Linked DNA regions of Homo sapiens. The protein of the gene in region 2 interacts with the protein of the main gene of each other region in a biochemical or structural test. Each region holds a gene or a part of one and is shown on either strand. Other genes may lie near its edges.

Evidence for each region.
Region 1: the proteins of MECP2 (region 2) and H4C6 are reported together in a solved structure, tested with the Homo sapiens proteins (one study listed by BioGRID).
Region 3: the proteins of MECP2 (region 2) and LBR form a complex in vitro, tested with the Homo sapiens proteins (one study listed by BioGRID).
Region 4: the proteins of MECP2 (region 2) and SIN3A form a complex in vitro, tested with the Homo sapiens proteins (2 studies listed by BioGRID).

Annotation. Positions count from the first base shown.
Region 1 is NC_000006.12:26,238,920-26,241,322, forward strand, and holds H4C6 (histone H4), read left to right. Parts: upstream 1-1,473; 5' UTR 1,474-1,506; coding exon 1,507-1,818; 3' UTR 1,819-1,874; downstream 1,875-2,403. UniProt on the Homo sapiens protein: Core component of nucleosome. Nucleosomes wrap and compact DNA into chromatin, limiting DNA accessibility to the cellular machineries which require DNA as a template.
Region 2 is NC_000023.11:154,031,667-154,037,267, forward strand, and holds part of MECP2 (methyl-CpG-binding protein 2), read right to left. Parts: intron 5,196-5,601; exon of another isoform or gene 2,258-5,195; intron 892-2,257; coding exon 541-891; intron 1-540. UniProt on the Homo sapiens protein: Chromosomal protein that binds to methylated DNA. It can bind specifically to a single methyl-CpG pair. It is not influenced by sequences flanking the methyl-CpGs.
Region 3 is NC_000001.11:225,414,510-225,418,038, reverse strand, and holds part of LBR (delta(14)-sterol reductase LBR), read left to right. Parts: coding exon 1-55; intron 56-2,706; coding exon 2,707-2,761; intron 2,762-3,529. UniProt on the Homo sapiens protein: Catalyzes the reduction of the C14-unsaturated bond of lanosterol, as part of the metabolic pathway leading to cholesterol biosynthesis.
Region 4 is NC_000015.10:75,441,662-75,445,190, reverse strand, and holds part of SIN3A (paired amphipathic helix protein Sin3a), read left to right. Parts: exon of another isoform or gene 1-1,857; intron 1,858-3,529. UniProt on the Homo sapiens protein: Acts as a transcriptional repressor. Corepressor for REST. Interacts with MXI1 to repress MYC responsive genes and antagonize MYC oncogenic activities. Also interacts with MXD1-MAX heterodimers to repress transcription by tethering SIN3A to DNA.

The sequences.
Region 1 (2,403 bases), on a different chromosome or scaffold from region 2:
ATAGGAGGCAATGAATGTGAAGCAGTAGACTGTAAGAGTTAATGTTGAATTTTTCTACTACACATACCCTATGATCTGTGTGTAGAACACTTCTTCCGGAATCTTTTATTAGGACAGTATTTCACAGAATTTATTAGTATTATTTTTGTTAATTTACAAACCTTTATTCACCATGATTTACCATGTATGCTTTAGTGGCATGAAAGCAGTGGTAGGTAGCAAGGTAGTGAGACTCCAGAATCGAGCCAACAATACAATGCCATTTATTAGAGGATAATGTCTTCAAGCCTGGGATTCCTTATCTTTACACCTCAGATATTGCATTATACATTGAAAAACTAAGAATGAAACTTCAATTAATATTGGTTTCCCTTACTAGAGGTCTTTCTTTATTAGGAATGCCAAAAACGATGTGAATGTATATGTCTCTGCCAAACGCTAAGTCTCATGATTGGCCAAATTTAAGAAGTATTGCTACATTTTAAGAATTAATAAAAATGGCCGGGCGTGGTGGCTCACGCCAGTAATCCCAGCACTTTGTGAGGCCAAGGTGGGTGGATCACCTGAAGTCAGGAGTTCGAGACCACCCTGGCCAACATGGCGAAACCCCGTCTTTACTAAGAAAATACAAAAATTACCCAGGTGTGGCGACGCGTGCCTGAAATCACAGCTACTCGTGAGGCTGAGGCATGAGAATCGCTTGAACCCAGAAGGCGGAGGTTGCAGTGAGCCGAGATAGCGCCACTGCACTCCAGCCTGGGCAACAGAGTGAGACCCCGTATCAAAAAAAAAAAATTAGTAAAAATACATTTTCAAAGAATCTTCACATTTAAAAATTAAAGCTAGGCGCCTGTAATCCCAGAACTTTGGGAGGCCGAGGCGGGTGGATCACCTGAGGTCAGGAGTTCGAGACCAGCCTAGTCAACATGGCGAAACCCCATCTCTACTAAAAATACAAAAATTAGCCGGGCGTGGTGACGCGCGCCTGTAGTTGCAGCTACTGCAGGGGCTGAGGCAGAAGAATCGCTCGAACCCGAGAGGCGGAGGTTGCAGTGAGCCGAGATCACGCCACTGCACTCCAGTCTGGGGCAGAGCAAAACTGTTTCAAAAGAAATAATAATTTTATTCTCTTGTCTATCCATTCGGTAGACAAGTGTAGCGTTACTGCCTCCTTTTTGCAAATAATAAGGATTTTAGGAGACAGACATTATCAGTTCGAGAGCCCACAGGCACTGGACTAGAAGACACAGAAACCTACACTCAAGACCCAAACAAGGAAACAGGAAGGAGTCAAATCAACTTGCATTTCCCCTACCCTCACCGCCCCCTTTCCTTCCCAAGGCAATAGTGTAGGGGACGCCCAGTAAGTTACGGAAAAGGCGGAGACAGAGGTTTCGTTCCCGCCCCTCCAATTCAGTCTCCAAAAAGGTCCGCATAATTGATATATAAGGGGCTTCAGTGTGTAGCAAAGTTGCAAAAGTTAAGAGTTGTTGTTTGTCTTCGATCATGTCTGGTAGAGGCAAAGGTGGTAAAGGTTTAGGAAAGGGAGGCGCCAAGCGCCATCGCAAAGTGCTGCGTGACAACATACAGGGCATCACGAAGCCCGCCATCCGTCGCTTGGCCCGACGCGGCGGCGTGAAACGCATTTCGGGCCTCATTTATGAGGAGACCCGCGGTGTTCTTAAGGTGTTCCTGGAGAATGTGATACGGGACGCCGTAACCTACACGGAGCACGCCAAGCGTAAGACAGTCACTGCAATGGATGTTGTCTACGCGCTCAAGCGCCAGGGACGCACTCTGTACGGCTTTGGTGGCTGAGCCTCACCCCGGCTTTTTATTTAACAGCTCACCCATAAAAGGCCCTTTTCAGGGCCACCTCCTTCGTCACACGAAGGGCTGTAACTGATGACGACTTGGGTTTCGTTTTGTAAATTTGGGATTCTAACTGAGTTAAACCGAGCCGTTTTTAGCGATCTTCCTAAGATGGCGGATGTGCTAAGGAGAAAGGGAAGGCGAAACATTAGAAACTTGTTCAGGTATTTCGATCGCAAACATTCACAGGAAAAGATGGTGGAAATGGTTTGGGAATACCAGCAGCCTTTTATGACGTATGTGATGTGTTTTATTCCCACGTTTCTGAAATTTACTCCTATGTTAGGTGGCTGGGACTTAACTACACTAGCATTACATGTTTAGTTTTTGAGATGGAGTTGCTCTTGTCCAGGCTGTAGTGCAATGACGCAATCTCGGCTCACCGCAACCACCCCCTCCCGGGTTTAAGCGGTTCTCCTGACTCAACCTCCCGAGTAACTGGGGTTACAGGCATGCGCCACCACGCTTGGCTAATTTTTTATTTTTAGTACAGAAGGGGCTTTTCTGTGTTGGTCTGGCTGGTCTCGAACT
Region 2 (5,601 bases):
AAGAGTCAGGCCTGGTACAGAAGGGTTGTCAGGCTGAGGCCCATTCTGCTGGTTGGTGCCTGGGCCTGAGTCACCATCTAGAACATTCCCAAGTTTGAACTCAGGTACGGTGCTCAGTCTCTCCAGGAATCAGTTTCAACAAGATAATCCTTTGCTCACCCTTCTCATGGAATTAAATGAGGCTGTCTGCAAATGTCATTTGAAAACTGCTAACCTTTTTGGGATCATTTAAAAGGCAGAACTGAAACATGCTTCTTCACCCCTCTGAACCCCTAGCTCTGCAAGTTCCTCTGCTTCCGCAGCTATTCCATCCCCAGATAAAGACTTGAGGTGTGGAGAGGATAGAGGGCCTGCTACCTTGAGAACTTCCCACTCAGGGCAGCGACCTCTGTACACGGTCATTTCAAGCACACCTGGTCTCAGTGTTCATTGTTTATGTTCCCCCCGACCCCACCCTGGGCACATACATTTTCCTGCTCCATGAGGGATCCTTGTCCCTGCCCTCCCTGCCCTGTAGAGATAGGAGTTGCTCTTACTTACTTGATCAAATACACATCATACTTCCCAGCAGAGCGGCCAGATTTCCTTTGCTTAAGCTTCCGTGTCCAGCCTTCAGGCAGGGTGGGGTCATCATACATGGGTCCCCGGTCACGGATGATGGAGCGCCGCTGTTTGGGGGAGGCAGAAGCTTCCGGCACAGCCGGGGCGGAGCCTGACCCTTCTGATGTCTCTGCTTTGCCTGCCTCTGCGGGCTCAGCAGAGTGGTGGGCTGATGGCTGCACGGGCTCATGCTTGCCCTCTTTCTCTTCTTTCTTATCTTTCTTCACCTTTTTAAACTTGAGGGGTTTGTCCTTGAGGCCCTGGAGGTCCTGGTCTTCTGACTTTTCTTCCCTGAAGTGTTAAACAAGTATGTAAGTATCACAGAGAACATGCCAGTCTGCAGAACAAGTGAGCAGAGGCAGGCTTGGACCCCCACCACATGCAAGGCCCCAGGCCATCATACACTCAGATCTTGATGTCCTTCCCCAGGACAACAGAGACTCGGGCCAAGCTGGGACCCAAATATTTCTTTAGGAATTTGGGCTGTGGGTGGTGCTGGCCGGTGTGCCTGACCTGCACTGTGGCCACCCACAAGTCTCCTAGCACTGCAGGAGAATCAGAGCCCTTTCCTCTGAGCGGAAACACTGCGGCTCCTGAGCATACCACCCCAGCATGAGTCGCACTTCAAGGGACTCTGGGCTCGATGGCTGACAAGAGGCCGTCGACTGCTGGAAAGGGAGCCAAATGGGGGAGGGGTCTCCTTTGTGAAGGCCGGGCCTTGGGTGTGTTTTTGGTTTTCTAGAATGAGGCTCAATGAGGCACACAGTACAGTGTCATGGAAAGCACACACAGGTTTGGAGCCAGCCAACCTGCACTGAAATCCTTTGCCGCTTTCCAAACATGAACCCAGCAAATGACCTCAGCATTCTGTGCTTCAGTTTCCTTATCTTGACAACAGGTAACCCCATCTAGGCATCCTTACTGTGAGCATCACAGGAGAAAAGGCACAATGGCACTATATAAATATCAGCTAACTCAGGCCACAGGAAACTACCGCCTAGGGTCCTGGGGGTGATAAGACAAGTGGTCCCAGGTGGCGTGAGCCTCTAACACATGTTCCCTGATGAGGAATGGCCTCGGCCACAGCAGATGCGGAGGGAAGAGCAAGGAAAAAGGTGTGGTCCAGGCAGAGCCATACATCCCCTTCCTGCCGGTGGAGAAGAGCACCCTACCTATTCTAGTGTGGGAGGCTTCCCCGTTCTTTTCTGGTGACCGAAGCAGCTCCTTCTCTACACATCACTTTGGCCCGGTGGGGTCTCGTCAGAAATGGCCACCGTGAGGCCCCACACCCCAGCATCACTATCTGGCCATGATGCTCTAGTACTCTGTCGAGTATGCCACCGTGAAACCTCCTAGGACTCCAGAGCCTCTGCAACAACAGGGGCAGCTTGGAAAGAAGCAGCAGCCACCTGCGAGTCCCTTCGTTAGCAGTTCATTCTGGAAAAGAGCATGACTACTCCCACCCTCCGTGTTCTCAGCCCCACAACTCCCCTGTCCCATGTGGTTCACATCAGTGCTAGTCACCGCCTTGCGGCTGGTCTACCCCAAGAGACTTCCCCTCTTGTCTACACTGCACAGACTGTGCAATGAGGGCACCATGGCACTCACTGGCAAGCATCCTTAGGAAACCAGAACTCAAATGATGTAGGGAAGTTACCAAAGGCTGCTTAGTGCTGGGACTCAGAAGCTGCAAGGACGTATCTCTCCAGAACCATCAGGTCAGGTGTAGGGAGGCAAGAGATGTTCCAATCTAGTGACAAGGTCTTAGAGTGAGGGAATGTCTTGTCCCCACCATGACTCACCCCTGAGTTCCTCCCTATCCTGTATCTTCCTCCAGAAGTTTAGGGCCCAGAGTGTGGCTGCCAGAGTCACCTAGAGCCACTGCATACACAAAGGCATCCTACAACCCACAGAGCAGTCTTTCTTGCTGTAAAGAGGGGTCCCTAATCTGTCCCAGCACAGAGCTCGCCTTGTTTTGTTTTTTGTTTTTTTTTTGAGATGGAGTCTCGCTCTGTTGCCGATGGCATAATATCGGCTCATCGCAACCTCCGCCTGCCGGGTTCAAGTTATTCTCCTGCCTCAGCCTCCGGAGTAGCTGGGATCACAGGCGTGTGCTACCACGCCAGGCTAATTTTTGTATGTTTAGTGGAGACGGGGTTTCACCATGTTGGGCAGGCTGGTCTCGAACTCCTGACCTCAGGTGATCGACCCGCCTCAGCCTCCCAAAGTGCTGGGATTACAGGCGTGAGCCACCGTGCCCAGCCAGAGCTTCCTTTTCATGTCTCTGAGTCTTACAGCTCTCAATGGGAAATGACGAAGAACCCTGGAAAGCTAGGTGTGGCCTGTTGCCCACCAGAGATCAGCCTTTGAGAATGGACCCCTAGGCAGCTCCCCAGCTCCCCATAAAGGAGGGAGGGAAGGGGAGCCACCAGCAGAGTGGGCCAAGAAAGCAGACAGATGGGAATCGCTACTTCTACACAATCCATCATGGCACTGCCTAACGCCAGGGCTGCTCCCTAGAACCCGGACGGTCCTAATGTCAGAGAAAAACAGTGAACTAATGGGAAAGATCTGGCTTCTTCGAAACTCTCATTTGCATTTCCCAAATACCTTAATCACCATGAGGTCAAACTATAAACCTAAACGTGACGTAAGGAATGCCTTCTAGAAATCTATGCTAAAGAGACACCTCCAGAAATCTCAAAGAACATATGCATGATGTTATTTGCTACAACATTATTTTTACCAGCCAAAGGCTTCCAATACCCCCGATCCCTATCACCAGGGCACTTGCTGAATAAACTTATGGTGCGCCCACACACTGGAGTACTGTGCAGATCCAAAGGGACTAAACAAGAGCTCTAAGAACTGCGATGGAGTCATTTCCAGGATCCACTGTGAAGCAAAGGGAGCAAAGCGCAAACATATCTACTGCATTCTACCAAAGAAAGAAGGGGGGGTATTAAGGAAGGACACACCAGGAACTAATGAAATTGATTCCCTGCATGGGGTAGGGGGAAAAAGGTAAGGGTACAGGCACAGGAGTGAGGCCTAGCTGAACATGCCTCAGTGTAATTCTGACTTCTGAATCATGTAAATGTTTATATTACCCAAAATAAAATTCAAACTAAAAGTAACAAAACCTTATTACACTTAATGCAAATAAAAACAAATGAGTTCGGGCCAGGCATGGTGGCTTCAGCCTACGATCCCAGCACTTTGGGAGGCCGAGGCGGGTCGATCACCTGAGGTCAGGAGTATGAGGCTGCAGTGAGCCATGACTACATCACTGCACTCCAGCCTGAGTGACAGAGCAAGACCCTGTCTCTCTCTCTCTCTTTTTTTTTTTTTGAGACAGAGTCTTGCTAGAGTGCCATGGCGTGATCTTGGCTCACTGCAACCTCCGACTCCTGAGTTCAAGCCTTCTCCTGCCTCAGCTTCCCGAGTAGCTGGGATTACAGGTACCTGCCATCACGCCCGGCTAATTTTTGTATTTTTAGCAGAGACGGGGTTTCACCATGCTGGCCAGGTTGGTCTTGAATTCCTGACCTCAGGCGATCCACCCACCTTGGCTTCCCAAAGTGCCGGGATTACAGGCATGAGACACCACGCCTGGCCAAGACCCTGTCTCTTAAAAAAAAAAAAAAAGAAAAGAAAAAAGAAAAGAAACAAATTTAATTCTATATCAAATTGACAATATACCACAGAGAAAAGATTTATTTCAAATGACTTTTGACTACAGTGCTCTGCAAACCTGTAGTGGGACATATTCTAAGGCCAACAATAACACTCCAGGGGCAGTAAACACACTAGATTGGCTCCCAGGAGAGATATGTGATTCTGCTTCTGGGGCATCTTGTGCCAGAAAGCCCGGGGAGTGCAAGAGAAAAACAGGGAGGGCCCATGAGAGGCCTCTAGCAGTGGTCCAGGTGTGGCCCAGGGTGGGGGCAGTTGAGGATTTGGGGCTGGTCTAGGTGGTGAAGCAACAGAGCTCGCAGGTGGATTAGTGTGGGGGTGAGGGGCAAGGGTGAGTCAGGGACCATGTCCAAAGCCTGGGAAGATGGTGGTGCCACTGATTGAGAAGGAAAAGACTGAGGGGCCGGCTGGGTGCAGTGGCTCTCACCTGTAATCCCAGCACTGTGGGAGGCTGAGGCAGGTGGATCACCTGAGGTCTGGAGTTCGAGCCCAACCTGGCCAACATGGTGAAACTCCGTCTCTACTAAAAATACAAAAATGAGCCGGGCGTGGTGGCAGGTGCCTGTAAGTCCCAGCTACATGGAAGGCTGAGGGAGAAGAATCGCCTGAACCCAGGAGGCAGAGGTCGCAGTGAGCTGAGATCGCAAGACTCCGTCTCAAAAAAACAAAAACAAAAACAAAACCACTGGAGCGGCAGGGGAGCAACACCCACAGAGACAGTTATACCATCAAGGAGAGAAAACAGTTCTTCAGCTACTCGCTAGAAAGGGGGGAAACCCCGCTGTGATCAGATTCTGAGTTGGGCCTGAATGAAAATGAACTGTCTGCTTGGGGTTTTAAAGGCTTTTTATTGTGGTAAAATATACAAAACAGGTCAGGTGTGGTGGCTTACACTTGTAATCCCAGCACTTTGGGAGGTGAGGCAGGTGGATCGCTTGAGCTCAGGAGTTTGAGACCAGCCTGGGCAACATAGCAAAACCCTGTCTCTACAAAAAAAAAAAAAAAAAAAAAAAATTAGCTGGGCATGGTGGTGTGTGCCTGTAATCCTAGCTACTCGGGAGGCTGAGGCAGGAGGATCACTTGAGCCTAGGAAGTTGAGGCTGCAGTGAGCCGTTGATCATGCCACTGCACTCCTGCCTGGGCGAACAAACCAGACACATATATGTCTCAAAAAAAAATACATATATATATATATATATATATATATATATATATATATATATACACACACACACAAAACAAAGTTTACCTTTTTAACTATTTCTAAGTGTACAATGAATGAACTTTTTTTTTTTTTTTTTTGAG
Region 3 (3,529 bases), on a different chromosome or scaffold from region 2:
CTACCTCCTGTGGTTTTTGATTCAAGTCCTGTTCTACCTACTGCCAATTGGAAAGGTACGTTTATGGTAATTCTGTTTTGTTTTAATAAGATGAGGTCTCACTATATTGTCCAGGCGGGTCTCCAATTTCTGGGATCAAGTGATCCTCTTGCCGCAGCCTCCTGAGTCGCTGGGACCACAGGCCTGTGCCATGCTGCCCAGCCTTAGAGTAGTTTAAAGGTTAAAGGCTGTTGTTGGTCATAATTCCCAAAACTTAGTTCATGAAGCCATTTCTCTTGTGCTGTCTGTATAACACTTGCTTATTAGGAGGAACTTAAAAAAAAATCTGATTGAGATTTCTTGTGTAACTTTTCAAACCAAATAGAAAAGAATAGGCTATTTTGCAAAGTAGCCGACTCTCAGTGGAGGTTGCTATGGAAAAAAAATTCACTCTTAGTATGTGTCATTTCAGATGCAGCATTTTAAATGATTAATTGATAGGCTACTGGGCTCGATGGACTTTAGTCTACATCTTTTACTTTAAAAAAGTATGAAAAGTTTCTAATTTTCATCTCTTTCAGAAGCTTGTTGTCAAGAACATTTTACGTTGTTTTCAGATTCCTGCAATATCTTTAAAATTTGTCTCTCCATTGCTAAGTGTAGTTTTTTCTTCTTTCAGTAGAATCCTTTACTTGGATATATTTAAAGAAACATGAGATTCCCTAAGTAATAAATAATTTATTTAAAGATCTTATTCTTAGGGCTTTGCAAGTTTGCCAACTGTCTGTAAACCAAAGGATCGGTTTTACTGGTGAATGCCAGTGATAGGAGGGTAGAGCTGCAGGCTTAATACTGTGGAGTGAGACCATAACTTTAGTGGCTCTAGCAAGGATTTTTGTGATAAAGACCTTCAGTCATTTCTACAGTAAGCCTCTACAGTTAAATTCAGATTCATTTAGGGTAAGGTGATTTCAGAGTATCAAGGAAAGCAGTTTTGGTGTTTAAAGTCATATATGTATATACTCATAGACTAAAGTGACTAAAAGCATATATATTAAAATATATATTAATATTATGCAGTCATCCCTTGATATCCTTGGGGAGTGGTTCCAGGACCTCCTGTACATACCAAAATCTGAGGATGCTGAAGGCCCTGATAAGAAATAGTATAGTATTTGCATATAACCTGTGTGCATCTTCCTTGTATACTTTGTTGCCTTTAGGTTGCTTATAATACCTAATACAACGTAAGTGCCATGTAAATAGTTATCATACTGTATTAGGGAATAAGGACAAGAAAAAGAAGTCTGTACATATTCAGCTCAGATGCAATTTTTTCCGAAATATTTTGGATCTGGTTGGTTGAATCCATGGATGTGGATCCCGTCGATACGGAGGGCTGACTGTATATTTGGATCTATATATTCACAGATTAAAGCCTAACACAGCATTTACTAGACTCCTTTAATAGATAAGGATCATCTGAAATTAGCATGTGGCATTTTACTAATCCTGTGATCTCAAACAGCTTTTACGTTTCTCTTGGGAGAGGAGGAATGCTAGCTAATGAAATCTGTAGCTAATGATAAGATAAAGTAGTTTAGCCCAGAGCAAATGATACTATATTTATATTTTACAGTTTGAAATGAATTGCTACATTTCTGAATAGTTATTTTGTGGGGTAAAACGTGGCTGCATTGAGCAAGTGGACTTTTTACTGAGCCAGTTCTATTGGGTACCATGCCTGTGGGTATCTCTGTGCTGAATGCTGTGAGTGATGCCGAATGAAGAGAGGAGATGGTTCTGATGCATGATGCGTGCTCACAGTCTCTCTCTCTCTCTCTCTTTTTTTTTTTTTTTCTTGAGACAGGGTCTTGCTCTGTTGCCCAGGCTGGAGTGCAGTGGTGCAATCTGCAACCTCCTCCTGGGCTGAAGTCATCTTCCCACTTCAGCCTCCCGAGTAGCTGGGACCACAGGCGCGTGCCACCAGGCTTGGCTAGTTTTTGTATTTTGTATTTTTGTAGAGAGGGGATTTCACCATGTTGCCCAGGCTGGTCTCCAACTCCTGGACTCAAGTGATCCTCCCACCTTGACCTCTCAAAGTGCTGGGATTACAGGCATGAGTCACCACACCTGGTTTCTCACAGTCTCTTATTGCAGATAAAAGAATCACATGAAATGGTTAAATAACTGGATGGGCAATATATATATAATATATAGCAGAGCAAGTAAGCATATGAGTATGCGTCATCAAATAGCACTTGGGTCATAGTAGAGTGGATAAACAGGGTAGAGCCCAATTGAAAAGGACCCCACAAATGGAAGACAATGGAATCATACTGTTACTTTGTAAGAGTATGGTAGCCATTGGTAGATGTTTGAGCTAGGGATCCACTAGATATAAAGGTATTTAAGCACATTTAGTCTTGAGGTGGTGGTACACAGGAGTGTGGCAGGGAGCGTGGCTGTTGCAGTTGCTTGGTCCTACACTAGGAAGTCATTACTGAATTTGTATTTAAGATAAATTCCTGAAGGTGGAATTGCGTCATTAAAGGGCTTGCCACTAGGGTTTTTGAAACATATTACTAAATTTCCATGTTACAAGATATCTTCCTTCTTGGGCGTGTTGAAAATTAAGTGATACTAGAATATATATATGTGTGTGTGTATATATGTATATATGATGGTGATGTGCTTAGTAAATTTGTAAATTTTTTTTCTTTTAAGGTTGTAGAAGGAACGCCTCTTATTGATGGAAGAAGACTCAAGTATAGATTAAATGGTGATTTTCTTTTTTTAAGACTCAAATTGATGATTTGATAGCTTAAACTTCTAAGTGTTAAACTCTTTGTTAAAGCTGATTAGACCAGAGTAGTAAGTGATAAATTATTTCTTAGTAGTTGGAAGAGCAACTGTTTATACCTGTAGCCAACTTGTATAAATTATGCCATTAAAGTAACATAGCCTCTTAGTCACTCTTGTCCACTCTCCAGTTTTATTTTCTTAATAGTGCTCATCACTGTTAGAAATCATTGCACTTGTCTAGGATTTTATCACCTGAGGTGTTACACGGATGTGGGCATCCAGGCCACTCCTGCTGCGTGAGCTGCTCTTGTCCTTGCTCATGTCCTCTGGGTTGTCCCTTGAATATTCGTCACACACACTTCCTGGGCCTTTGCCTGGAGAACTTACCCCCAAACGTCTGACACCTGCATCTTCACCTCCATCTGTCTTCTGCTGAGAGAAGCCTTCAGGTCCCTTTCTCTCCCCTGCTCTGTTTTGTTTTTCTGTCTGACATTTGTGCCTCCACACATCAGTGTATTTGTCTCTTCATTAGGGTCTCTCCACTAGAATGTGGCTTCATGGGCTAGGACTTGGCTATGTTCATTGTGACACTCTTGGTGCTAGGAAGATGGGCATGTAGTGGGTGCTCATTCATATGTGAGTGCTGGATGGATGAGTTGTGAGCTTGCTGGGCAGCTCAATAAATGGATAGACCTTGCTCCCTGTGGGTCCGGCATCTCGCACTGTAAGAGCATGTGCTGAGTGC
Region 4 (3,529 bases), on a different chromosome or scaffold from region 2:
CAGCCTTGTCTTGAACTCCTGGCCTCAGGCAATCCACCTGCCTTGGCCTCCCGAAGTGCTGGGATTACAGGCATGAGCCACTGCACCTGGCCTTATAGATATTTTGAAAGATTATATTTCTTATATTAAATAGAGATAGGGTCTTACCATGTTGCTCAGGCTGGTCTTCCTGGACTCAAGCAATCCACCTGCCTCAGACACCCAAAGTGCTGAGATTACAGGTGTTAGCCACCATGCCTGGCCTAATACTTAATTTTTAAAAAACTTTTTCTTTGGAAATAATTTTAGACTTCAAAGAGAGTTGCAAAAATAATACAAATAATAGCCCTATAATCTTCACCTAGATTCCCCAAGTGCATCTTTTAAAACCACAATACAGTGATCAAATCAGAAAATCAACATTGATAACAATTATTAATACATTTTGAATTTAACTAAATTTCTGTTCATTTTCTACCTACAGTAGTAAGAAATGTCTGGGTAACATCAGTGTCACCGAAGTCTGTATTGCCCAGATTGGTCTCAAACTCCTGGGCTCAAGCAGTCTGCCCACCTCGGCCTCCCAAAGTGCTGGGATTACAGGCCTGAGCCACTGCACCTGGTCTGGACTCAATTTTAGTTTTTGAGTTTTGCTTTTTTTTTTTAAAGCAGTACTAACTACTTGTAAAGATGTATATTTCATGACTTTTATTTATTGGAGGTCTTCAAAACAGCAAAGAGAAAATTTATTTTTATTTTTAATTTTATTTTTGAGATGCGGTCTTGTTCCATCCCCAGGCTGGAGTGCAGTAGCGCGATCTTGGCTCACTGCAACCTCCGCCTCCTGGGTTCAACTGGTTCTCCTGCCTCAACCTCCCGAGTAGCTGGGATTACAGGTGTGTACCACCATACCCAGCTAATTTTTGTATTTTTAGTAGAAATGGGGTTTCACCATATTGGCCAGGCTGGCCTCAAACTTCTTATCTCTCGAAGTGCTGCGATTACAGGCATGAGTCACCATGCCCAGCCTGAAAATTTATTTTTTTTCCAAAGGAATAAACTCATTTTAGCTATTACCACTTGTACATCGAAACAATGTTGTGGAGTTTTACTGATCTTATTTTTCCTGTATATTGAAATGTTTTGGTATTTCATCATCCTAGGAATTATTTCATCATTACTCATCAATTCTCAAATATGCTAAAGAGGACTAAAATAATATGACAAAGGGAGAATTATAGAATTGCTTAAAAGGATATGCAGTAGTGAAATAAATCATTAGTTTTACACTTCAGTTTTTAGAGATGGGGCCTCGCTTTGTTGCCCAGGCCGAAGGGCAGTGGTATGATCATAGCTCTCTGCAGCCTCAAACTTCTGGGCTCAAGTGATCATCCCTCCTAAGCATCCTCGGTAGCTGGGACTATAGGTGTGCACCGCAGCCCTTCAGTTTTCTTATTGCTTTTCCCAAAACTTACAGCAACTTTTTTTTTCTTTTTGGATACAGGGTCTCACTCTGTCACCCAGGCTGGAGTGCAGTGGCGCAATCTCAGTTCACTGCAACCTTCGCCTCCCAGACTCAAGCAATCTCACCTCAGCCCTCCAAGTAGCTGGGACTACAGGCATGTGCCACCACACCTGGCTAATTTTTGTATTTTTTTTGTAGAGAGAACGTTTCGCCATGTTGTCTAGGCTAGTCTCGAACTCCTGGGCTCAAACAATCCACCCACCTTAGCCTCCCAAAGTGCTGGGATTCCAGGCATGAGCCAGCATGCCCAGCCTACAGCATCTTTCAAGAAAGTATAAAAGAAGTTGGGAGATACCATCTTAAACATTATGTAAGATGTTAACATTTGGAGAATCTAGGTGAAGGAGTACATGGTAATTTTTATACTATTTTTCAACTTTTAAGCTTTCATTGGACATATTTAAAAATCCATAGTTTTTCATCTTCCTCCTATAATGGCAAAGAGAAGAAAACTGACTACAGAAGACATTTCAGAGGAACTAGTAGATGAATGCTGTGTGACAGTAGTACTCTAGACTGTTAGGATGACGGTAAAGTTATATAAACCAAGTTGTAAAATAAGAGTCTTCAGCCAGGCATGGTGGCGTGCACCTGTAATCCTAGCATCTCGGGAGGCTGAGATGGGAGGATCACTTGAGCCCAGTACTTCAAAACCAGGCTGGGCAACATAGCAAGATTCTGTCTCCACCCATATACATATGTGACTGTACCCTAGATGAGTTTAGAATGTGATTTTTTTTTTTTTTTTTTTTTTGAGACAGAGTTTTGCTCTTATTGCCCAGGCTAGAGTGCCATGGCACAATCTCGGCTCACCGCAACCTCCGCCTCCTGGGTTCAAGGGATTCTCCTGCCTTAGCCTCCCAAGTAGCTGGGATTACAGGCATGTACCACCATGCCTGGCTAATTTTTTGTATTTTTAGTAAAAGATGGGGTTTCTCCATGTTGGTCAGGCTGGTCTTGAACTCCCAACCTCAGGTGATCCACCTGCCTTGGCCTCCCAAAGTGCTGGGATTACAGTCGTGAGCCACCATGCCCAGCGGTGAATTTTTTTTTTTTTTTTTTTTTTTTTAAAGATGGGATCTATCTCACTATGTTGCCCAGGCTGGATTTAAATTCCTGAGCTCAAGCTGTTCTCCTGCTTCAGTTCCCCCAAGTAACTGGCACTATAGGCATCCAGCTAGAATGTGATTTTCTTTTTATAAGAATCAGAACTGGGCTGGGTGCAGTGGCATATGCCTGCAATCCCACCTTCTTGGGAGGCTGAGGTGGGAGGATCGCTTGAGCCCAGACGTTCGAGACCAGCCTGGGCAACATAGTGAGACCCCATTTCTATTTTTAAGAAATGAAAAAAAAAAACAATCAAAACCACTGCACTTTGCCAAAAAGATGTATGATAGTATTCTTTCATCTTTCAAGATATTTGTACACCAAAACTTAGTTGATGCAGTTTGTAAGTGGACAGGTGCCAAAGTTACGTATATGTATAAAGATGGTTAGAAGGAAAAATTATGTAAAAATGAAAAAAAAAATCAGTTTTTTTTTTTTTTTTTTTTTTTTTTTTTTTTTGAGACAGAGTCTCACTCTTGTTACCCAGGCTGGAGTGCAGTGGCATGGTCTTTGCTCACTGCAACCTCTGCCTCCTGGGTTCAAGCGATTCTCCTGCCTCAGCCTCCCGAGTAGCTGGGACTACGGGTGCGTGCCACTGCACCCAGCTAATTTTTTGTAGTTTTGGTACAGATGGGGTTTCACCGTTTTAGCCAGGATGGTCTCAATCTCCTGACCTCGTGATCCACCCGCCTCGGCCTCTGAGAGTGCTGGGATTAGAGGCAAGAGCCACACGCTCAGCCTGGATTGTTCATTCTGATTGACATTTATTAGTCTAAAAATGAGAATGCTTATGATTATGGAGCAAAGAAGATGACTGTTCTCTCCAACAAAATTATGAAGTGAGTTTTCAAAGTATTTCATTTGATGGGCAGAAAGGGAAAAAAAGACCCAGAGGTGATAAGCTAGAACCTTACTAGA